Homo sapiens: one gene and its partners. The protein of the gene in region 4 purifies or fractionates together with the protein of the main gene of each other region. This does not show direct contact. Each region holds a gene or a part of one and is shown on either strand. Other genes may lie near its edges. The genes, in order: KIF22, DNMT1, CDH5, CHFR and RANBP2.

The links.
Region 1: the proteins of CHFR (region 4) and KIF22 purify together in Homo sapiens (affinity purification with western blotting; one study listed by BioGRID). This does not show direct contact.
Region 2: the proteins of CHFR (region 4) and DNMT1 purify together in Homo sapiens (affinity purification with western blotting; one study listed by BioGRID). This does not show direct contact.
Region 3: the proteins of CHFR (region 4) and CDH5 purify together in Homo sapiens (affinity purification with western blotting, with the first as the bait; one study listed by BioGRID). This does not show direct contact.
Region 5: the proteins of CHFR (region 4) and RANBP2 purify together in Homo sapiens (affinity purification with mass spectrometry, with the first as the bait; one large-scale study listed by BioGRID). This does not show direct contact.

What each region holds. Positions count from the first base shown.
Region 1 is NC_000016.10:29,803,265-29,806,894, reverse strand, and holds the end of KIF22 (kinesin-like protein KIF22), read right to left. Parts: intron 3,497-3,630; coding exon of another isoform or gene 3,447-3,496; coding exon 3,287-3,446; intron 2,898-3,286; coding exon 2,830-2,897; exon of another isoform or gene 2,824-2,829; intron 2,082-2,823; coding exon 1,869-2,081; intron 1,781-1,868; coding exon 1,721-1,780; intron 1,633-1,720; coding exon 1,585-1,632; 3' UTR 1,511-1,584; downstream 1-1,510. Other genes in the region: MAZ (myc-associated zinc finger protein), read right to left, coding at 2-193. UniProt on the Homo sapiens protein: Kinesin family member that is involved in spindle formation and the movements of chromosomes during mitosis and meiosis. Binds to microtubules and to DNA. Plays a role in congression of laterally attached chromosomes in NDC80-depleted cells.
Region 2 is NC_000019.10:10,132,461-10,136,631, reverse strand, and holds the end of DNMT1 (DNA (cytosine-5)-methyltransferase 1), read left to right. Parts: intron 1-344; coding exon 345-511; intron 512-779; coding exon 780-896; intron 897-2,324; coding exon 2,325-2,415; intron 2,416-2,930; coding exon 2,931-2,965; 3' UTR 2,966-3,286; downstream 3,287-4,171. UniProt on the Homo sapiens protein: Methylates CpG residues. Preferentially methylates hemimethylated DNA. Associates with DNA replication sites in S phase maintaining the methylation pattern in the newly synthesized strand, that is essential for epigenetic inheritance.
Region 3 is NC_000016.10:66,364,497-66,369,759, reverse strand, and holds the start of CDH5 (cadherin-5 preproprotein), read right to left. Parts: upstream 3,070-5,263; 5' UTR 3,002-3,069; intron 1,118-3,001; exon of another isoform or gene 1,008-1,117; intron 1-1,007. UniProt on the Homo sapiens protein: Cadherins are calcium-dependent cell adhesion proteins. They preferentially interact with themselves in a homophilic manner in connecting cells; cadherins may thus contribute to the sorting of heterogeneous cell types.
Region 4 is NC_000012.12:132,845,644-132,850,206, forward strand, and holds part of CHFR (E3 ubiquitin-protein ligase CHFR), read right to left. Parts: intron 3,082-4,563; coding exon 2,998-3,081; intron 2,513-2,997; coding exon 2,442-2,512; intron 1,488-2,441; coding exon 1,400-1,487; intron 1-1,399. UniProt on the Homo sapiens protein: E3 ubiquitin-protein ligase that functions in the antephase checkpoint by actively delaying passage into mitosis in response to microtubule poisons.
Region 5 is NC_000002.12:108,725,456-108,730,018, reverse strand, and holds part of RANBP2 (E3 SUMO-protein ligase RanBP2), read right to left. Parts: intron 888-4,563; coding exon 820-887; intron 1-819. UniProt on the Homo sapiens protein: E3 SUMO-protein ligase which facilitates SUMO1 and SUMO2 conjugation by UBE2I. Involved in transport factor (Ran-GTP, karyopherin)-mediated protein import via the F-G repeat-containing domain which acts as a docking site for substrates.

The DNA of each region.
Region 1 (3,630 bases), on a different chromosome or scaffold from region 4:
CCTGGAATGGACTCTGGGCGCAGCCCTGGGAGGCAAAGAAGCGGGACTGGAGCTCAGCCCCGACCTGCAGGGGGTTCTGGGCGTGACCCTGAGGTGGCGGGAAGGAGTTCATGAGGCCGCCCACCCCCCGGGAGTCCAGGCCCAGCACGGGGAAGGGGGGGGCCAGCAGCGTGCAAGGAAACACCGGGAACATGGCCTCGGCCGCAGCGGGGCCCCCGGGGCTCAGCGGGGGCCGGGGGCGCGGGCCGCGCGGGGCCCGGGCTCGGGGCGCCGCCCCCGGCCGGCCGGGCTGGGCCGCGCCGAACGCATGGCCCGCGGGCCGCCCCGCCGCCCGCGCACCCCGGCCGGCGGGAGGGAGGAAAAGAGGGCGCCTTGCGGGCCGCGGAGCGCCGCGGCGACGGCGGCGGCGACGCCCCCTGGGTGGGGGCGGGAGGCCCCGCGGGGCCGGGGCCGGGGGCGGGGGCCCGGGCGGCGGCGGCGGCGGCGGCGGCGGTTGGAGCCTGGCGGGGCGGGGTGGGGGGAGCGAGGGAGCAGCCTCGGCCCCCGCCGCGCGCGCGCCCAGCCGGCGCCTCGGGGAGGGCGGGGGAGGGCGCGAGGGAGGGAGGGGGACAGCTGCGCGCGCACCGGGCGCGCGGAGGGGGGGTGGGACGGGAGGGAGGGCGGGCAGGAGGGGGTGTGGGCAGGGGGGTGGGGGCGGGGGGAGGGAGTTGTTACCTGGAAGATGAAGCTGCTCCAGTTGCTGGGATCCATGGCGGAGGGAGGGAGGGAGGTGGCTCGCGCTCACCCTGGGGCGGGAGGAGGAGGCGGCGGCGGTGGGGGAGGGGGAACCCGGGAGGAGGCGCGCGGGGCGGGCAGGAGGGGGGAGGTGGAGGGTGGGGGAAGCGGAGCACACTACGCGCGGGGAGGGCGGGCGGGGGGCGCGAGGACACACAAGAGGCTGGAGCGGGCGCGAGCGCTAGCGCGAGCGCGCGCGTGGCCAGCGGGAGGGGCAGGCGCGAGAGGGACTCTGGCGGGAGGAGGGACGGGGGAGCCACCCAGCAGCCCGAGTCGCCCCGAGCGCGAGACCCCTGAGACGGCTGCTGATTGGCTGACGATGGCGCAGGTGGTGGGCGCGCGGGAGACAGGGCGGCTTCTCTCCTCTTCCCCCCGCCAACGATTCCACTCCCCCTCCCTCCGCCAGCGGCCGTTATTTCGCGCGCACGCGCACAAGGCCGCCGTCGTTGCCGAGCGGGAGAATGGGGGAGCGCGCGCGCCGGGGGCACGGACGGGGCGGGGCTAATCCCTGAGCGCGCGCCCGCCTAACGGTCGCAGGCCTCATGCTTCGGCTTCCGCTTTTTGCGTCCTGCAGGCCACCGTCCTCCCCGCCCCACCCCAGCGGTGTATTTACAATCCTGCGCTGAGTCGTTCCCCGAAGATGGCGCCCAGTGGAGTCGCCTGCCTTGCTCGCGGCCCACCCCGAGGCGGTCACACCCCGGTCCCGCCCCCGCAGCCCCAAAAATCAGGCGGAAGCACCGGAGCAAAAACTGTATTTACACAACACGGGGTTATACAAAAATTTGAAAAGGCGGAGTGAGGAGACGACGGTCAGGAGGCGCCACAGCGCTGGCCGGCGGCGAGACCCAGGATGTTTGCCTGCAACACAGGAGGGAGGGAGACAGCGACGTTAGAGAGGGGCGCGGGGCGCAGGACAGGCAGAGGAGGGGCAGGGCCGTGACTTCACCTTCAGGAAGGACTCCATCTGTTTCCCCGTTATGCCCTCCACGCGTTCCAGGTCCTCCACCTGGCGGGACAGGATCGATAGGGGACAGGGTCTCGGGGGTACCCGGTCTCCCCCGCCCCCGCCCTCCCCCAGTCCAGTGGGCTGCTACCTGGCTGAAGGGGCCGTGGAGCTCCCGCCAGCCCACGATTAGCTGGGCCTTCTTCGGGCCAATGCGCTGAAGACTGCGGAGATCTCGGGCTGAGCCTTCGTTCAGCAGATCCAGTATTTTTTGGCGCCCATGAGCCAGTAGCTCCGGGCTGATCTGTAGCTCCCAGCAGTCCTCAGCCTTCTCCTCAGGCTCTAGGGCATCCAGGGACTCCAGCTGGGAGGCAAAGGGAGATGAGTGACACGCAGGGCAGCCAAGTGCTTTGGGCTCCTCTGCCAAGACTAGGAGCCCAGCACCAGCTACCTCCTGCGCTCCAGCCTCTTCCTCTCTTGTCAAGTGTGTCCAAAATCCCGCCCTCAGGTCACTCTCTGGGTTAATTCTTATTATGCAACTAGTGAAAGAGAGGTACTACTCAGTACCCAGTGGTAATATTAGCACCCTTCTCATGGAGTTGCTGTGGAGATCAAGTGAGTTAATGAATGTAAAGCACAAAATAAGCTCTTAAATCTGGTCCCTCATCTCTAAAAGGGAAAGAATAAGCTGTCTTTCAAAAAGTACATGGGAGAAAGTAATATGAATAAATGATACCTCCCCCAACCATCTCAGTTTTTGGGTAGTTCTAGTGGTGTTCGATTCTGGGTATGTGCATATGTGTGGTTTCTTGCTTGACTGCTTAGGTCATAGTTCCCTAAGTTTTCCCTCTTAAGCTTGTAGAGGGTAGAAGCCAGGCTACACAGTGGAACATCCGCTCTGCGAGGTACATCCACATCACTGCCTTCCACCCTAAATGCCCTGCAAGGAACCATCCATCACCACATTCCAGGGGTAAGCAAGTTGAGGTCTGTTAGTAGCTGGCGGCCATCATCCAGTTCGTTTAACCCCAAGGCCAACGCTCCTCCCCCTAGAGCCTACTCCCCCTTACTTCTGGGCTCCAGGTGTAGCCTAAGCCCCCAGCTACTTTCACCTTTCTCTTCCGGCCTTTATTCTTCAGGATGTGGATCTCGGCATTTGGGGATGCTGCCTGCTCCTGAACTGAAAGTAGGAATCGAGAATTGGAGTCAGGGCAAAGGGTACTTTTCACCCTCCCTGGTAGCCCTTCGATTCTTCCATTTCTGATTCCCCAGCTCCCCTCCATCCAGAGTTAACCTGTTGTGTTTCCACATGACCTTTTTTATACCCGCATTTAAAGGAATTTCAGTCAGTCTTGCATTATCTTCAATCCTCTACTCGTTTGTCCATCCCACTGTCCTAAACACCCGAGGGCAGAGCACCCCCAGCACTGCCTCAGAGCCTCCTCACCCCTCCCTGGGACTGGTATGTGGTGGGAGAATATGAATGACATGGAGACAGCTGCTCCTAACACTTCCTCCCTTATAGGATCTCAGCTGCCTTGGCCCCCCAGCCCCTGGAGTCAAACTTACTTAGCTGTAGGGGCATCACCACAGCCTTTTTCAGGGGCTTTGCCCCTGTGACTGTGCGATGTGAAAGGGGCCGGAGCATTGTGGGACAATGGTTCTCCTTTTCCTCAGCCTTCTGGGCCAACATCTTGGCCTCCAGTTCTTTTTGCTTCGTCTTAAGCCTCTGTTGGAAAGGATCAGGGAGATGTGATCCAGACCCAACTCCAGGGCAGCCTGAAGGGAGTGGGTTACCAGGGTGAGTATGCAAGGCTCTGAGCCCCCAGAGGGCAGGGCTAGGACCAGTGGGAGGTTACCAGGAGACAGGTGGAGCCTAACATAATTAAGGGCTTTCTGTGATTAGGGGGCTA
Region 2 (4,171 bases), on a different chromosome or scaffold from region 4:
AAACCCCATCTCTATTAAAACTACAAAAATTAGCCGGGCGTGGTGTCGCACGCCTATAATCCCAGCTATTTGGGAGGCTGAGGCAGGAGAATCGCTTGAACCCCATAGGCAGAGGTTGCAGTGAGCCAAGATCATGCCATTGCACTCCAGCCTGGGCAACAGAGCGAGACATATAATACTAATAATAAAAACAGTGCCCAGAGAACGAGGATTGTTGGCTGCTCCACCCCAGGGGGCCCCTTGCACAGGAGGTGCCATCTCTGCCTCCCAAAGCTCTAAGAGCCACTGTCCCAAGCCTATACCCCATCCCACAACTGCAGCCTCATCACTGTCCTGTCTTCCAGCCGGCAAAGCCTGCGACCCCGCAGCCAGGCAGTTCAACACCCTCATCCCCTGGTGCCTGCCCCACACCGGGAACCGGCACAACCACTGGGCTGGCCTCTATGGAAGGCTCGAGTGGGACGGCTTCTTCAGCACAACCGTCACCAACCCCGAGCCCATGGGCAAGCAGGTAGGTGGGGAGGGGGCATCCGAGGGCCTGGGTCAGGCCCTGTACTTGGCGGCCTAACTAGGTGGAAGTGTGGGTTTAGCCAAGTGGGGGACAGCACCCCAGGACCCCAGGCACCTGGCCTCTGCCTCCTGCCCCTCCACGTCCACGGGACAAGCTCATAGGCCAAGGCCATGGCCGTATGCTGTCACAGTGCCATTTCCCTCCCTGTCCCCGACGGTGACCCGGCCTGGGTGCTACTGCCCTCGCCCACCGCGCCTCTTTCCCCCAGGGCCGCGTGCTCCACCCAGAGCAGCACCGTGTGGTGAGCGTGCGGGAGTGTGCCCGCTCCCAGGGCTTCCCTGACACCTACCGGCTCTTCGGCAACATCCTGGACAAGCACCGGCAGGTCAGTGGGGCGGCGCCCGCTGGGTCTGGACAGGAAGGAGGCTTCTGTGCCTGTCACCAGGTGGGGCTGGGGCCAGCGCAGTCACTTCCGGGAGGACGCCTGCTGGCTGCCGGGTAGCCCCATCACTCTCAGTGGGAAGACGGCCCACAGGAGGGACAGTGCTGAGACATCCGAGTCAGGCTGCGTCCCTATGCTGGTTCCTTACTGTTTGTTTTTGAGGCAGAGATTGAGCCAGAAGGACAGTCCGTCGCGCTAAAGGAGCAGGCTAAAACCCATGGTGGCGACAGCTCACTCGCTGTAGGTTCAAATGAACTAGCACCTTAATTCCTACCTGCTTCTCAGGTGTCGGGTTGGCTTAACAAGTTAGTCTATGAGTTAGTCTCAGTTAAGTGTATTTTCATCATAGGGCACGCGCATTGCTTAAAAACCAGTGTCCACGGTTCTTGTGAAAACCACATTTCACCCCTCCCCCCGAATCTGGTTCTCGGGAAGCAGCCACTCTCTCTTTTTTTTTTTTTTTTTTGAGATGGAGCTTTGTTCTTTCGCCCAGGCTGGAGTGAAGTGGCGTGATCTCAGCTCACCGCAACTTCCACCCCCCTGGTTTTAAGTGATTCTCCTGCCTCAGCCTCTTGAGTAGCTGGGATTACAGTCATGTGCTACCACACCCGGCTAATTTTTGTATTTTTAGTAGAGATGGGGTTTCACCATGTTGGCCAGGCTGGTCCCGAACTCTTGACCTCAGGTGATCCGCCTGCCTCGGCCTCCCAAAGTGCTGGGATTACAGGCATGAGCCACTGCGCCGGCCAGGGAAGCAGCCACTCTTAACTGGGAGCGAAACGTGTCTAGGTGGCCCATTTGTCTTTTTTTTTTTTTTTTCTGAGACAGGGTCTCACTCTGTCCCCTAGGCTGGAGTGCAGTGACATGATCTCTGCCCACTGCAACCTCCACCTCCAGGGTTCAAGTGATTCTCCTGCCTCAGCCTCCTGAGGTGCTGGGATTACAGGCATGTGCCACCATGCCCAGCTAATTAGTTTTTGTACTTTTAGTAGAGACGGGGTTTCACCATGTTGGCGAGGCTGCTCTCGAACTCCTGGCCTCAACTAATCCACCTGCCTTGGCCTCCCAAAGTGCTGGGATTACAGGCGTGAGCCACTGCTCCCAGCCCCACGTGTCTTTGTCTCAAGTCTTTCTGAAGCTCTTCAAAGGCCCAGTGACTTGTGGCTGTGGGGCGGGATGATGGGCCAGTTGGAGGGTCCAAGGATCTTGTGCTGGAAGGGTTTTGGGCCCATGTGAGCAGGACCAGAACCCTTCCCCAAGGGGTGCAATGCCCAGGTTGTCCTCCATCTGAGCAGGGGCTGGCAGTACACCTGCCCCCGGGCCTTGGGCCTGGGTGTCCACATCAGGCATTGCCCTTCTCCCCTCCTGCAGGTGGGCAATGCCGTGCCACCGCCCCTGGCCAAAGCCATTGGCTTGGAGATCAAGCTTTGTATGTTGGCCAAAGCCCGAGAGAGTGCCTCAGGTATGGTGGGGTGGGCCAGGCTTCCTCTGGGGCCTGACTGCCCTCTGGGGGTACATGTGGGGGCAGTTGCTGGCCACCGTTTTGGGCTCTGGGACTCAGGCGGGTCACCTACCCACGTTCGTGGCCCCATCTTTCTCAAGGGGCTGCTGTGAGGATTGAGTGAGTTGCACGTGTCAAGTGCTTAGAGCAGGCGTGCTGCACACAGCAGGCCTTTGGTCAGGTTGGCTGCTGGGCTGGCCCTGGGGCCGTTTCCCTCACTCCTGCTCGGTGAATTTGGCTCAGCAGGCACCTGCCTCAGCTGCTCACTTGAGCCTCTGGGTCTAGAACCCTCTGGGGACCGTTTGAGGAGTGTTCAGTCTCCGTGAACGTTCCCTTAGCACTCTGCCACTTATTGGGTCAGCTGTTAACATCAGTACGTTAATGTTTCCTGATGGTCCATGTCTGTTACTCGCCTGTCAAGTGGCGTGACACCGGGCGTGTTCCCCAGAGTGACTTTTCCTTTTATTTCCCTTCAGCTAAAATAAAGGAGGAGGAAGCTGCTAAGGACTAGTTCTGCCCTCCCGTCACCCCTGTTTCTGGCACCAGGAATCCCCAACATGCACTGATGTTGTGTTTTTAACATGTCAATCTGTCCGTTCACATGTGTGGTACATGGTGTTTGTGGCCTTGGCTGACATGAAGCTGTTGTGTGAGGTTCGCTTATCAACTAATGATTTAGTGATCAAATTGTGCAGTACTTTGTGCATTCTGGATTTTAAAAGTTTTTTATTATGCATTATATCAAATCTACCACTGTATGAGTGGAAATTAAGACTTTATGTAGTTTTTATATGTTGTAATATTTCTTCAAATAAATCTCTCCTATAAACCACCCTGGGTGGGTATTCGTGATTTGCACGGGACTTCTGGCTGAGGTCAGACAGGAACAAGCTCTTCCATGCTGAAGGCGACCCACGTGGAGTTTGAAGCTAGCACGTTTGAAGCTAGACACTCCGTGTGTCTGTCTGTGTTTGTTCAGAACTGAGTCACGTGAGTTGATCCCCATGACATGCAAATGGAACTTGCTAGTGTAGCTTCCAGGAAAGCCTTTTAAAGGAAGTCTTGGCTGGCCTTCCCCGTGGCTGGTAGGCCTTCTTTGGTCTGAAGTGGGTTGTGATGCCTGGCAGTGGAGCAGCCATCCTGTGACCATGAGGCAGAGCTCTGTGCTGCAACTGGTGGAATAAGGAGAGAGAAGTCACCACTGAGCTGCCCTTGGAGCCCCGGCCACCCCATCCCCAAGCAAAACCTCTTTAGTTGGGTTTTTTTTCTTTCCAAAGAATTTTTTTTTTTTTTTGAGACAGTCTTGCTCTGTTGCTCAGGCTGTAGTGCAGTGGGGCAGTCTCCGTTCAATGCAGCCTCTGCCTCCTGGGTTCAAGAAATTCTGCCTCAGCCTCCCGAGTAGCTGGGATTGTAGGCGCCCATCACCACGCCCAGCTAATTTTTGTATTTTTAGTAGAGACGATGTTTCACCATGTTGGCCAGGCTGGTCTTGAAATCCTGACATGATCCGCCCACCTGGACCTCCCAAAGTGCTGGGTTACAGGTGTGATCCACTGCACCCAGCCTCCCATTAGCTTTTTTTTTTTTTTTTTTGAGACAGTTTCGTTCTTGTTGCCCAGGCTGGAGTGCGGTGGCACGATCTCTGCTCACTGCAACCTCCGCCTCCCAGGTTCAAGTGATTTTCCTGCCTCAGCCTCCCAAGTAGCTGGGATTACAG
Region 3 (5,263 bases), on a different chromosome or scaffold from region 4:
GGCCAGACCTATTTTGTGATGTGAAACAAATTTGTGCTGGAATCTCTGGGCTCCGGGTCATCTAGTCTATCCCCTTGCCTTCTAAAGGGACAGCTCCAAACTTCAAGGAGAGAACACCCATGCTAAGGAGGCTTCCAGACTCCTCTGGGCTTCCTGACTTTGTCTGGGACTGTCAGGGCAGTGCGGGGAACAGAATGAGGCCCTTGCACCTGCCTATTTGAACCTGCCCAGCTGCTCGGGAGCTGTGTGACCTTGGGTTCATCTCTTGCTTGCTGAGCCTCAGCTTCCTTATCTGTAATGGAGGCAACAATAGCTGCCTCCCTGGGCAGGAGGATTAAATGAGATCATGGGTGCAAAGCCTGGCACACAGTAGGTGCTCAGTAAGGGTGCAGGTGTCTTGACTCCTATCTACCCGCCCTCTCCAGCCTGGTGGGTGTGGCTTTGACTGGCCAACTTACGCTTGACCTCATTTCCTGGCTCTACTCTGGGCCCACCTCCTACTCTTTCTGTTCCTCTGCAGAAGGAAATCTCATTCACCACCAGCCCGGCCTGCCCCTGGGTCCCACTTCCTCCTCCTTCTAGTATCTGGACCTGCCAGGATCTGACTGTTTTGCTATGGTCCAAGGCAGACAACCTGGAAATCCCTGAATTAGTTTAGGGACCATCCCCTACTCTCAAGAGATGGGAAGACTGAGGTGCAGGCTGCAGAGGGGCTGCCCAAGGCCTCCTAGCATCTGGGATTCCCACTCTTCCTCCAGCAAGCCCTCCATGATTTACCCACTTAACACCAGCTTGAACCTGGATCAGGACAGACTTTTTAGTATCTCCTCAGCCAGAGGTGAAGCTCCTGAGGCCCTGCCTCCTAGAACATTCCTTCCCCTGGTATCACTGGGCTCCTGGCTTGTCCCTGTGCCTGCCTCTGTGGCCTGGACTGCTCTGCTTTCCCCCTCTCTGAGCTTCACTGTGGAGTGTGGCATGGACTGTGGGTCAGAAGGAACCGCACTCACCCTGCTTCTACCTTGTGTTGGTTGTGTGACCTTGGACTGGCTGCACAGCTTCCCTCAGCCTCGATGGTCCCATCTGTCAAATGGGAATTCTCATAGTTGCTTCAGTGTGACTGAGGGGGTGCAGAGAGAGGATACAGGGAACAGTCATGGGTCCATGTGGGCAAAATGAGCCTAAGATTCTTCCTGGGATGGTGTCCCCTCTGTCCCCTGGGTGTCCCCAAGTCAGCAGTGAATCATCCAACTTTGCAGAAAATGTGTGGCCCCTGCTGGCTTCCTGCCCTCATGTCCGGCCCTTGTTTGGCAACACAATAGCTCAGGCTGAGGCTGCAGGCGGGCAGCTTAACCCCTTCCAGGCCAGTATACACCTCCCCTACCCCTCACCACCATAAGCTGAAATTGGTAGGGCTGCTCAGGGGCTCAGCAGCTCTTGGGCCCCTTGGTGGATACCTGCTGCTCTCTAGGGCAGGCAGAGGAGAGTCCCAGGCTTCCCACCACCTGAGGATGGACCAGGGCTTCTGGCCCTGGCTCCAGTGGCCTGTGGCAAAAGAGCCTTCCAGGTACACCCTCGACTCCTCAAAGCTGCCTCCCTGGGAATGCCCTTCCTCTCTTGTCAGAATCCTATCTGCCCATCACACATGAGAAACGTCCACGCTGGGGAGGGAGCCTGACATGGAGCAGAGGCCCAGAGGTGCTCGCGATGTCCTCTCACTTGCACCCCCTTCCTCGTACCTGCTGGGCACCTGAGGACCCCTCCGTGATGGGGTTTGACCATACCTCAAGGGCCAAAATCTTTATCACATTCACAACCAGGATCGGCTCTGTGCTAGCTGGTAAATCCAGCCACTATTCCTTAAAGATCTCATGTTATGTGCCATTCCCAGCACCAGGGATGTAGCTCACTTCACTCAATTGACTGAGGAAACACTGTTTCCCCATTTCACAGATGAGACACTTGAGACCTGGGGAGAGCTGGGGCTTTGGAGTACGAGATCCTGGTTCAAATCCCCACACCAGCTCATATGTTTCCAAAGCTCAGTTGCTTTCACTGAGATATAAAGAAAGAATGTATCTACCTTGTGGAGTTGTTAATGGTAAAATAATGAGCCCCACACCATCCCTTGTTCCCCACTGTGGTTTGGAAACTCTGGGTAACTTTCCCAAGGTCACCCCAGAGCAAATGGGAGAGCTGGGATCTGTACCCAGGGCAGCTGTCTCCAGGCCAGGCTCTTGGCCCAGACCTCCTGCTTCTGGGGGACTTCCTGGGCTGTGGGGGCCTTGGGGCTCTTATGCTCTAGCCTTTGAAAGGGTGCTGGTGGGAGGAATGGTGGACCGCTGTCCAGACTACAGCTCCCTTGACACATAGTGGGCCCCGATGGTGTTTGGGCAGGGAAAGGCCCAGAGGGAAAGGCAAGACCTCAAGTGCCCAGAGCCAAGCCTCAGCTTGCCTATCCTGAAATGGGGGCACTGGCTGACCGAGAGGGGCCAAGGCTCGGAGCTTCCTTTTCAGGGCCCCTCCCCAGATCCCAGCATAGAGCTTTAGTGGCGTATGGGTAGGGGGCTGAGGAGGCTGGTGTCAGGCCTTGGTAAATCCTCTCCAGTAAGGGTAAGGCACCGAGGGGAGGCCAAGGCCTGGGTGCCAGTCCTCTGCCCCGGCATGCTGGGCAACTGGGGCAGAATACTGCCCTCTCTGAGCCTGGCACTGATGAAGGCCAGTGGGCCTTTTTGAGTTGGAGAATACACTTCTGGGAGAGCCAAGCCCTTGCCCTGCCCCCCTCAGCCCCGAGATGCCCATTTGTGCCCTTGGCACTACCTCTGGGTGCACCTTCCCCGACCCTGCTCTGAGCCACGAGGAGGCCCAGCGTGCCCTCGAGGAGCCTCTCTGTCATGGGAGTGGGACGATGCCCATTCTACAGATGGGGAAGCTGAGGACCCTCCCATCTTGGGCGCAGGGTGGCGGGTTTGGGGTGGAGGGGAGTGTGGGAGCCCCCACTCACCGTGCCTGTGGGCTGAGGGATGTTTCTGTTCCGTTGGACTGCCTGTCCGTCCAGGGCTGAGCGTGAGTGGAGCTCTGTGGAGCCTGTCAGCCGACCGTCTTTGGAGGGGAGCCACACCCCGCTGGCGAGGGAGGCCTGGCTGCCTCCCCTTCAGGTTTTCCAGCTGGCCCTGGCCCACTTCCCCCTGGGATGGTTTCCTGTTATTGTTCCTTTGTGAGGGCTGGGCTGGCTGCAGATAGGCAGGCCCTGCGGTGGGCGGCTGCCTCGGCCCCGGATGGCTGTCTCCACAGAGGGCTGGCACTGGACCCTGCCTGGGGCACCCCACTTGAACCCCTACTCCCGGCCTCAGCTCTGGGACTCTGAACCCAGCACCTGCAAAGAGCCTGGCTGTGGGGACCCTTGGCTGCAGCATCACATTTAACCCTCCTTGGAATGCTACAGGCAGGTGTCATCACCCCCATTTTATAGCCCGGGAAGCTGAGGCTCAGCGGGTTTAAGGTGCTTGTCCACCCAGCTGGGGTATAAAAGAGCCAAAAATCTAGCTGGGGTCAGCCTAGCCCCAGAGCTTGATTTTCTGTGGTGATCCCATGATGTCTTTGTGGGAATGGACTTTAAAGGTGACAGGGAGGCTTCAGGAGATGGGAAAGGGACAGAAGCTCTTGGCTCTGGAGGACCAGGTTGGCTTCTCCTGGTCAGAGCGGGCATGGACTCCAGCTCTAAGGTGCCAGCCTCGGTCTGTAGGGGATGTTTGCATTTAGGGATATTGGGTGGAGTCAAGTGACCCAGCTCTGCTTCTGATGTGACCTCTGGCCAGTTGTGTCATCCTGGAGCCACAGTTTCCTCATCTGTAAAATGGGGATAATCACAGCCTCATCCTCACAAGGCTTTTGACATAAACGAGAATCAAAGAGGGGCGTGGAAGACAGTGACGCTGAGGCTGGATCAGAGCCCAGAAGAACCAAGAGGCTGGGGGGAAGGGAGGGGCCAAGATTCTGCTGACCAGGAGAGACATAGGAGGAGCTTCTAAAAACTACAGAGGACTGGGCTCACCCCAGATCAACTGATTTGGAATCTCCCAGGGCAGATCCTGGGAATCTGTCCTTTGAAGAGTTGCTTCTGTTTTTCCATGGGTGAATGGTTGGGAAGTCCCAAACTTGTTTTATTATATAGCTGGGCAAGCAGAGACCCTGAGAAAGAGAGGGCCCAGGGCCGTTTAGTAAATCAGAGCACAAGATGGGGAGTGTGATGGAAGGATATTTTTGGAGGAGGAGGGGATAGTGATTCCTCTGTCTCAGGCAGGTTGAGTTTGAGATGCTCGTTAGATACCCAGGTGGAGGTGTCAGGCTGGTGGGGGAGACAGGGGTGAGTCCAGCCTGGAGTCGAGGTTTGGAACCCAACAGCTTATGGCTGGCATCTGAGGCCATGGGCATGGATGAGCTTGGAGGGAGGGAGGACTTGGACCCTCTGACATTTGGGGATCCATTAGAAGAGGGTCCCATGATGAAGGAGGAATGCCAGGAGAGGGCAGAGGAGGAGGGCAGGGGAGTAGTCAGTGGGTCAGCCTGGGGAGCATGAGGGCTGAGACTTAACTTTGGATTTGGAAGATGAGGTCATCAATGACTGTGACCAGAACAGGTTAAACAGGAAAAGGTAGACAAGACAGATTGGAGGGGCTAGAGAAAGGGGAGAAAGGGGGACGGGGATGTGGAGTCACGTGTGACTGTAGCTTCTTCCCCAAGTCTTACAGTGAATGGGAGCAGAGAAGTGGGAGGGTTTTTTTTTTTTTTTTTTTTTTTTTTTTTTAACTATGGCAGCACGCTCATGTCCCCAGGGAGCATCCAGCAGACGGGAAGACAGATGATGCTGGAGACTGAGGAGCGACCTGCTGGAAGGAGAACAGTCCTTGGGGCGGAATTCTGAGTGGGATCCAACACATTCAACAGCCGATTGTGGAATGAACAAACAACAGCTCAGCGCTTCCTTCTCCAATGGGATTAACTCTGCTTTCTCCTGCCCAGAGGGGGGGTTGGCCGCAGAGGAGCCAGGACAGTGCTCTGTCCCCTGTGTTCCAGTCCACATCCCCCTCACCCCCGCCTGTCCTCATGGTCTACGTGCCCATGGGGATACACTGGCCTGTGCATTGCTTCCTGCTGGGTCTCAGACTCGGGGCTGTGGCAGATGGGGACAGGGCCTGTCCTGGCACCATCTGCCAATTCCCTTTGTACTCCCAGTCCATGAGGAAGTTGACTCTGCCCTGAAAAC
Region 4 (4,563 bases):
TGTCTCATATATATATTTCTACAGCCTCCCTTAGTGATAAATTATCATACTCCACAAAGCATCGTGTGCCCCCCTGGAGAGGAGTGACCCTCACCAAGTGACTGACACATCAAGCAAGAGATTCACCAAGTCCCCGAGGGTCCCAGGACAACTGACCCCAGGACCTCTGGATAGACAAGTGGTAGAGACCCTCCAAGCTGGCCCCACCTGTTGGAGGCCACACAAATGTTTCTTATGATTAGGCATAATTGAAGCCTGTCAGTAACAGTATGAACCTGTGATCAATTTAGCAGCTGCCCAGTTGTTACCTCCTCCTTGCTCTTGTTACCCAATAAATATGAAGGGCTGTAGAAGCTCAGGGGCAGCCTTTACTCACTAGAAGCAGGGAGCTCTCCTCTTCTTCCCCATGTTGCCTTTCCTTAAAAGTTTCTTTTGTCTTTTTGTTTTCATTTCTACGTTTGTCCCTTTGTTCAGTCCTGTAATGATGGTCTCAAGCAGTAACAGCAGTAACTGCTGTAGTGAGGGTCTCAAGCAGCAGTAGTGGCAGTCGGCCACACCCACCCTCCCCTACAAGGATAGAAGCTGCTGGAATATGTCATACAGGTTCATGCTTAACTGTCTTTTTTTTTTTTTTTTTGAGACGGAGTCTCGCTCTGTCCCCCAGGCTGGAGTGCAGTGGCGTGATTTTGGCTCACTGCAAGCTCCGCCTCCCGGGTTCACGCCATTCTCCTTCCTCAGCCTCCCGAGTAGCTGGGACTACAGGCGCCCGCCACCACGCCCGGCTAATTTTTTGTATTTTTCTTTTTTTAGTAGAGACAGGGTTTTACCGTGTTAGCCAGGATGGTCTCAATCTCTTGACCTCATGATCCGCCCGCCTCAGCCTCCCAAAGTGCTGGGATTACAGGCGTGAGCCACCACACCCGGCCCACGCTCAACTTTCAAAAAACAACCTGAAGGCCGGGCATAGTGGCTCACGCCTGTAATTCCAGCACTTTGGGAAGCTGAGGTGGGCAGATCACCTGAAGTCAGAAGTTCAAGACCAGGCTGGCCAACATGGGGAAACCCCATCTTTACTAAAAATACAAAATTAGCTGGGTGTGGTGGCACATGCCTGTAATCCCAGCTACTCAGGAGGTTGATGCAGGAGAATCGCTTGAACCCAGGAGGCCGAGGGGGCCTTGAGCTGAGATCATGCCACTGCACTCCAGTCTGGGCAACAAGAGCGAGACTCCATCTCAAAAAACAAACAAACAAACAAAAACAACCTGAAAGCATCAGGATCTTTTTCCTCTCTTCCAGGGTGGGTGAAGGTCGGAGTTGTCACTGGGAGAGCAGACACGCAGGCACAGCCCTGGACACTCACATGCGCCTTAGAGCAGGAGGCAACAGAAGAACTCACCAGACAGCAGAAACACTCCCCGCTGGAGAGCCACGAGGCTCTCGGTCAACATGTTTTTCCATGTCAAACCTCTGGTTGCCAGGTAATTCTGTGACGCAAAAAAAGAGAGGAATAAGAAATACTCGTTTAGAGGAAGAAACACTGAAATAACGAGAGAAAACATTTCATAAAAGGCCCCTGAAAGTGTGCAAAGCCAAAGCTCAGACCCTTATAAGTGGCATTTGCAGAGGGCTGCACGTTCACGGCCTGCAGCACGAGAAGTCTTGTCCAAGAGCCTCCTGGAAGTCCCAAAAGGTTCCAGTGTAACAGTTACCAGAGTCTCTCAAAAGTTCTGCCAAGACCTACACAGCCCAGGTGTGAATGAGACATGAAAGCCAGGCCACAGTGCACACAGCCCAGCAACGAGCCCAGGCTGTTGCACAAGAAAAGCTGAGGACTTGGCATCTGTTCTCTGTGCCCTTCAAACACACACGAGCTGTTGAGCTCCTTCTGTGGGCATCAAAGCAGAGTGTGGGGCTGAGCGGGCGCCTGCCAGGTGTGTCTGTGGCAAGCCTCAAGGCCCCACCATTGTGTGTGCTGTCAGCAAAGTGCTCGGCAGGAGGGCGAATGCGCATGTTAAACATATGTAAATCCTAGAAACCGAGGTAGCTTCCTAGACGTGGGAAGGCAAATGGCCAGAAGAGACAGGGACCAGAGAAAAGGCCCTGGTCTTGCTAAAGGGCGGCACCTTCAAGAAGCCCTCACCGAGAGCTGTGGGAACAAGAGCTGCCGGGAACAAGAGCTGCGGGAAGCGGCTCCTACGAATTGGTGGCAGGAGGCACAAAAACGAAATACCTATTTTTGGAATACGGAAAAAACAGACAAACACCAATGGCATGCAGAGAACCAGCTGGCTGCACCAGTGAGGAAACATGGCTCCCGGCTCCCCAACCCGCAGCGGGTCAGGTAAAACAGATAAACACCAATAGAATGCAGAGAACCAGCTGGCTGCACTAGGGAGAAAATGTGGCTCCCGGCTCCCCAGCCCGCAGCGAGTCGGTACCTTCAGGATGTCTGACTCGTAGCTGTTGTTGTTCAGCACGCCGTCCAGACACTTGTCACCCAGGTTGAGCTCTGCCGAGATGAAGGGGCAATGTTACCTGTTTATAATGATGTCGCAGGAAAGCACTGTCTGCCCGACACTGAGGATAAACATATTTCTTTTCATTACAGATTCTAGAAAGAATAAGAAGTTCAATGATAAAACTCAATTTTAAACAGAGGACAAGCAGAAATGATTTCCATTCCACTCCCTCCTTAAAAAGATCAGCTCTCCGAGTCTCCCCAGCACCTGGTCTTGGTATCGTAACAGCAGAACCCCGCTGCAAGGATTCTGTCCTGGGAGTATCTCCCCTAATAATTCTGTTAAGGCTTGATTTTGAGCTAACACGAATTTGACACACCTCTGCAGTCCAGCCAGGAATAGGTATCATTTGATGACCAACAGTGGCCTCATCCCTATAAACATCAGGCTATGGACCCCACCATCCCCTGCCCTCAAGTTCACCAAGAGAACATGCAAAGGTCAAAGCAACTGGGGCCTGAAGAGCCAGTATTACCACAAAACGGGGCCAGGCAGCCGTAGCAGCCGGTCCGGGTGCAGCCCCAGTACAGGTGGCAGAAAGGCTGCAGGCAGACCGCACCTGTGGAGAGAGGACACTCGTTACACGCACTCAGCGCTGAGGGCTGTCTCCAACACAATTCGTCAGCACCAGGCTCAGGAGCTCAACTCTTTCTGGAAACATTGTTCAGGAGGGGTCTCATGGAAATCGGGGCGGGGCCACATCCAGCTAACGCCACCCAGGTTGTGATGGACTGTGATGGCGAGGAGTTGTATCCCTGAAAAAAGGCGAGGCTCACATTTTCTGGTTTGTTATTTTTTAGAGATGGAGTCTCGCTCTGTGGCCCAGGCTGGAGTACAGGGGAACAATCACAGCTCACTGCAACCTCCGCCTCCTGGGTTCAAGGGATCCACCCACCTCAGCCTCCTGAGTAGCTAGGACTACAGGTGCACACCACCAGGCCCGGCTAATTTATTTTTTATTTTTGTAGAGACAGGGTCTCACCATGTTGCCCAGGATGGTTTCAAACTCCTGGCTTCAAGGGATCCTCCCACCTCAGCCTCTCAAAGCGCTAGGATTACAGGCATGATGCACTGCGCCCGGCCTCAGACCCACATCGTTTCTTAAACTGAACATTTACAGGCGTGATGCACTGCACCCGGCCTCAGACCCGTATCGTTTCTTAAACTGAACATTTACAGGCGTGATGCACTGCACCCGGCCTCAGACCCGTATCGTTTCTTAAACTGAACATTTACAGGCGTGATGCACTGCACCCGGCCTCAGACCCACATCGTTTCTTAAACTGAACACCACATGCTCATCCCAGGAAAACAGTGAGAGACACAAAAGAAAGAAATCTCACCTGCTCCACCACCCTAACACGGCTTCGATGGGCTTCATTCTAGCTCTGAACATGCAACATGCTTGCCCCCAACTGCACATATTCAGGTGGCTTTTTTTTTTTTTTGAGACAGAGTCTTGCTCTGTGGCCTAGGCTGGAGTATAGTGGAGCAATCTCGGCTCACTGCAACCTCCGCCTCCTGGGTTCAAGCGATTCTCCTGCCTCAGCCTCCCCAGTAGCTGGGATTACAGATGCCCACAACTGGCCAATTTTTTCATTTTTAGTAAAGATGGGGTCTCACCGCGTTGGTCAGGCTGGTCTCAAACTCCTGACCTCAGGTCATCCGCCTGCCTTGGCCTCCCAAAGTGCTGGGATTACAGGCGTGAGCCCATGCCCAGCCTAGGTGGCCTTTTTCTACCTAGGTATTTTTCCATGTTGTCACCTTGGCTTTGTAGACGTTATTTATTTATTTATTTATTTATTTTAGACAGAGTCTTGCTCTGTCACCCAGGCTGGAGTGCACTGGCGCCATCTCGGCTCACTGCAACCTCTGCCTCCCGGGTTCACGCCATTCTCCTGCCTCAGCCTCCCAAGTAGCTGGAACTACAGGCGCCCGCCACCATACACGGCTAATTTTTTGTAATTTTAGTAGAGATGGGATTTCACCATGTTAGCCAGGATGGTCTTGATCTTCTAACCTCGTGATCCACCCACCTCAG
Region 5 (4,563 bases), on a different chromosome or scaffold from region 4:
AGCTGGGAGCAGTAACACACACCTGTAGTCCCAACACTACGGGAGGCCGAGGCAGGCAGACTGCTGTGCTCAGAAGTTCAAGACTAGCCTGGGCAACATAGTGACACCTGTCTCTACCAAAAAATGCAAACCTTAGCCAGGTGTGGTGGTGCGCATCTGTATCCCCAGCTACTTGGGGCGCTGAGGTGGGAAGATCTCTTGAGCCCAGAAGGCAGAGGTTACAGTGAGCAAAGATGGAGCCAGCTGCTGCACTCCAGCCTGAGCAAGAGAGACAGATACTGCCTAAAAAAAAAAAAAAAAAGCCTGACTCCCTCTTAATTTCCTGCTTTAATCCACTCCAAGTCAGGAAATCAGAATCACCAAGCTTCTTATCCCTAGGATAGAGCCTTAGAGCATCACATATTGTGTCAATTAAACATCTTTTATACAAGCTATTCTCCTGCCTTACAATTACGGTTTAATTTTTTATTCATTGCTATTTTCCATCTGATTAAGGTATCAGATATCTAACCAAAAACAAATTAAGATATAGGCATGGTCCTCTTTTACTCCAACAGAAGACAATTTTTAGAAAAAGTATTTGAAGCCAAACAATTTCTTGCCCTTGGTATAAAGCAGCAGCATGCAGAAAACACTAATTACGGTTTCAATCTCAATGGAATCTAGGCTGGTCCTTAGCATCAGTCTGAGTGATAAATCCCTTATTCCAGAATACACTTAGGAAGAACTACTAAGAACATATTTTTACCTATTTCAAAGAAGAAAATGAGAAAAGGCATTGATTTTAAAAAAAAAATACATGTTACAGTTTGTACTTACTTTTTAGCAAGATCATATTCTTTAGCTTCATAATACAGCTTTGCAAAATAGAATCCTTTCATTGACTTCTAAAAAAAATTAAAAGTTGTTTTACTTTTCATACAGAAATATTTTCCAACATTTTTTCAAAAGTAGTAAAAATCTGTCCTAAGTTGATGTTCAAATACGCCACTTTCATTCACTTAAAAGTTTTTTTAAAGGCTGACAAATGCATAATTCCATGTTTTATAATTTCCTATCACAAAACAAAAAATAGAGCTGGGTGCAGCGGCTCATGCCTGTAATCCCAGCACTTTGGGAGGCCGAAGTGGGCGGATCACCTGAGGTCAGGAGTTTGAGACCAGCCTGGCTAACATGGTGAAACCCCGTCTTGACAAAAATACAAAAATTAGCCAGGCATGATGGTGGGTGCCTGTAACCCCAGCTACTCGGGAGGCTAAGGCACGAGAATCAGTTGAACCCAGGAGGTGGAGGTTGCAGTGAGCCAGAGGTTGCAGTGAGCTGAGATCGTGCCATTGCACTCCAGCCTGGGCGACAGAGCGAGACTCCATCTCCCAAACATCATCATCATCATCATCATCATCATCATCATCATCATCATCATAAATAAGCTGGGTGCAGTTGGTCACACCTTTAATTCTAGCACTTTCAGAGACCAAGGTGGGAGGCTAGCTTTGAGGCCAAGAGTTTGAAACCAGCCTGTGCAACACAACAAGATCCTGTCTCCAGGGAGAAAAAAATAGCCAGGCATAGTGGAGCATGCCTGTGTTCCTAGCTACTCAGGAGGCCAAGGAAGGAGAATCACTTGAGCCCAGGAGGTTGACACTGCCGTGAGTTATGACTGTGACACTGCACTCCAGCGTGGGTGACACAGGGAGATCCTCTCTCTAAATAATAAATACATAACATACAAAAAATAAATTCAAGAAAGTAAGACAAGCAGACAACAGAAGAATTTTCATCAGCCTTGGAAATCTTGGAAACCCTGTGGTACCACTCTCTCACTTAACAAACAAAAGAAACCAGCTTTCTTTGGGGAGGAAAGGTATTCCAGAAATCTCTTTTCCTACCATGTGTAAGCCTCTATGGGAAAGAATAAGTAAGTACTTAGGATCTATTAAGGCACTGAGGATTCCCTGGTCCATGTACTGTTCTCTCTACAGATCAGATCAGTATTTTACAGTCAAGGAGTCAAAAAGGCAGAAATAAATATTGAATTCTTCAAGTAATAAACGAGGTCCACAGCCTGGCTCCTTGGTTACATAAACTCCAAAGTCCAAAATGCTGATGCACACCAGGCTGGGTGCGGTGGCTCACACCTGTAATCCCAGCACTTTCGGAGACCGAGGCGGGCGGATCACCTGAAGCCAAGAGTTCGAGACCAGCCTGGCCAACATGCAGAAACCTCCTTTCTACTAAAAATACAAAAATTAGCTGGGCATGGTGGCACACCCCTGTAATCCCCACTGCTTGGGAGGCTGAGGCAAAGAATCGCTTGAATCCGGGAGGCAGAGGCTGCAGTGGGCCAAGATCGCACCACTGCACTCCAGCGTGGGCAACAGAATGATTCCATCTCAAAAAAAAAAAAAAAAAAAATGCTGATACAACCAGAGTATGTTCCATCCATGTGATAAAGAGTATACAGCTACTCAAACATCTTATTTTTGAAATTCCAAGACCCCAGTGAATGTCCAAAACGATGAATAGTATCAAACCAGGTTGCCGTCAATCGAAACATGTTTCCTGTTTGTGTCCTCCACCCACAAATTTAATGTCTTGTCCATCTCAACTAAGCACTTATCACACACTATGGCTGTAACTTTTGCAGTTTGGGGTGTCACAACAAAACTAGCACAAATTTCTTTTTCCTTCTTCACAATTTCATGGACAAAAGATTTGTTCTTACCATAGATCTTAGCAACTCCAGTATATGATCTTTTTTCTTTCCTAAGTCAAAAACTCACCTCTTCTGAGGGGCGCCTCTGCCCGGCCGCCCCTACTGGGAAGTGAGGAGCCCCTCTGCCCGGCCACCACCCCGTCTGGGAGGTGTACTCAACAGCTCATTGAGAACGGGCCATGATGACAATGGCGGTTTTGTGGAATAGAAAGGCGGGAAAGGTGGGGAAAAGATTGAGAAATCGGATGGTTGCCGTGTCTGTGTAGAAAGAAGTAGACATGGGAGACTTTTCATTTTGTTCTGCACTAAGAAAAATTCTTCTGCCTTGGGATCTTGTTGATCTGTGACCTTACCCCCAACCCTGTGCTCTCTGAAACATGTGCTGTGTCCACCCAGGGTTAAATGGATTAAGGGCGGTGCAAGATGTGCTTTGTTAAACAGATGCTTGAAGGCAGCATGCTCGTTAAGAGTCATCACCACTCCCTAATCTCAAGTAATCAGGGACACAAACACTGCGGAAGGCTGCAGGGTCCTCTGCCTAGGAAAACCAGAGACCTTTGTTCACTTGTTTATCTGCTGACCTTCCCTCCACTATTGTCCCATGACCCTGCCAAATCCCCCTCTGTGAGAAACACCCAAGAATTATCAATAAAAAAATAAATTAAAAAAATAATAATAATAAAAAGCAAGGTGAGACTACAGTACTCTCCCTCTGCCATGTGAGGACAAGATGCCAGCCAACCTATAAGCCAGGAAGAAAGCCCTCATCAGGAACCAAAGCAGCAGCACCCTGATCTGCCGCTTCTAGCCTCCAGAACCATGAGAAAATAAATTTCTGTTGTTTAAGCCAAAAAAAAAAAAAAACAAAAAAACTCACCTCTTCACTTAAAGGAAGCACTATATGGCTTCTCTCTGCATATGTGAACTGCCAGCATCGCTACTCTTGCTCTTTGGTGCCATTTTAAATAAAATAAAGGTTACTTGAACACAAGCACTGCAATACTCCAACAACTGATCTGATAACTGAGATGACTAGTATGTAACTAGCGGGTGGCGAGCACATACAGCATGAATATGTCGGACAAAGGGATGACTTGTGTCCTAGGTAGGACGGAGCAGGAGGCCGTGAGATTTTTACCATGTTATTCAGAACCGTTTGCAATTTAAAACTCATGAAATGTTTATTTATATAATCTTCCATTCAATATTTTTGGACCACGGGTGACACAGCTAAGTAAAACCACGTAAGGCAATACTGTGGATAAGAAGGGACTACTGTACCAGCAACGAACAATCAGAAAAGGAAATTAAGAAAGCAATTCCATTTACAATCGCATCTAAAAGAAAAAAATGCCTGGGAATAAATGTAAACAAGGAGGTGAGAGACTTGTATGCTTAAATTACAAAACGTTGCTCAATGCCAGGCTAACACCTGCAATCCCAGCACTGGCGACAGAGCAAGCCTCCGTCTCAAAAAAAAAAAGAACTACAGCAATCTTAACAAAAATAATACACAGCAGTCAGGACAGCACGTAAAGGAACAAGGCTTGTTCCCCCCTTCCTTTTTTTTTTTGAGATGGAGTCTTGCTCTGTCGCCAGGCTGCAGTGCAGTGGCTCGATCTCAGCTCACTGCAACCTCTGCCTCCCGGGTACAAGCTGGGACTACAGGCGCACGCCACCATGCCCAGCTAATTTTTGTATTTTTAGTAGAGATGGGGTTTCACCATGTTGGCCAAGATGGTCTCGATCTCTTGACCTTGTGATCTGACTTCCTCCACCTCCCAAAGTGCTGGGATTACAGGCGTCAGCCATTGAGCCCAGCCAGTTCCCCCTTTTCAAAATGAAGA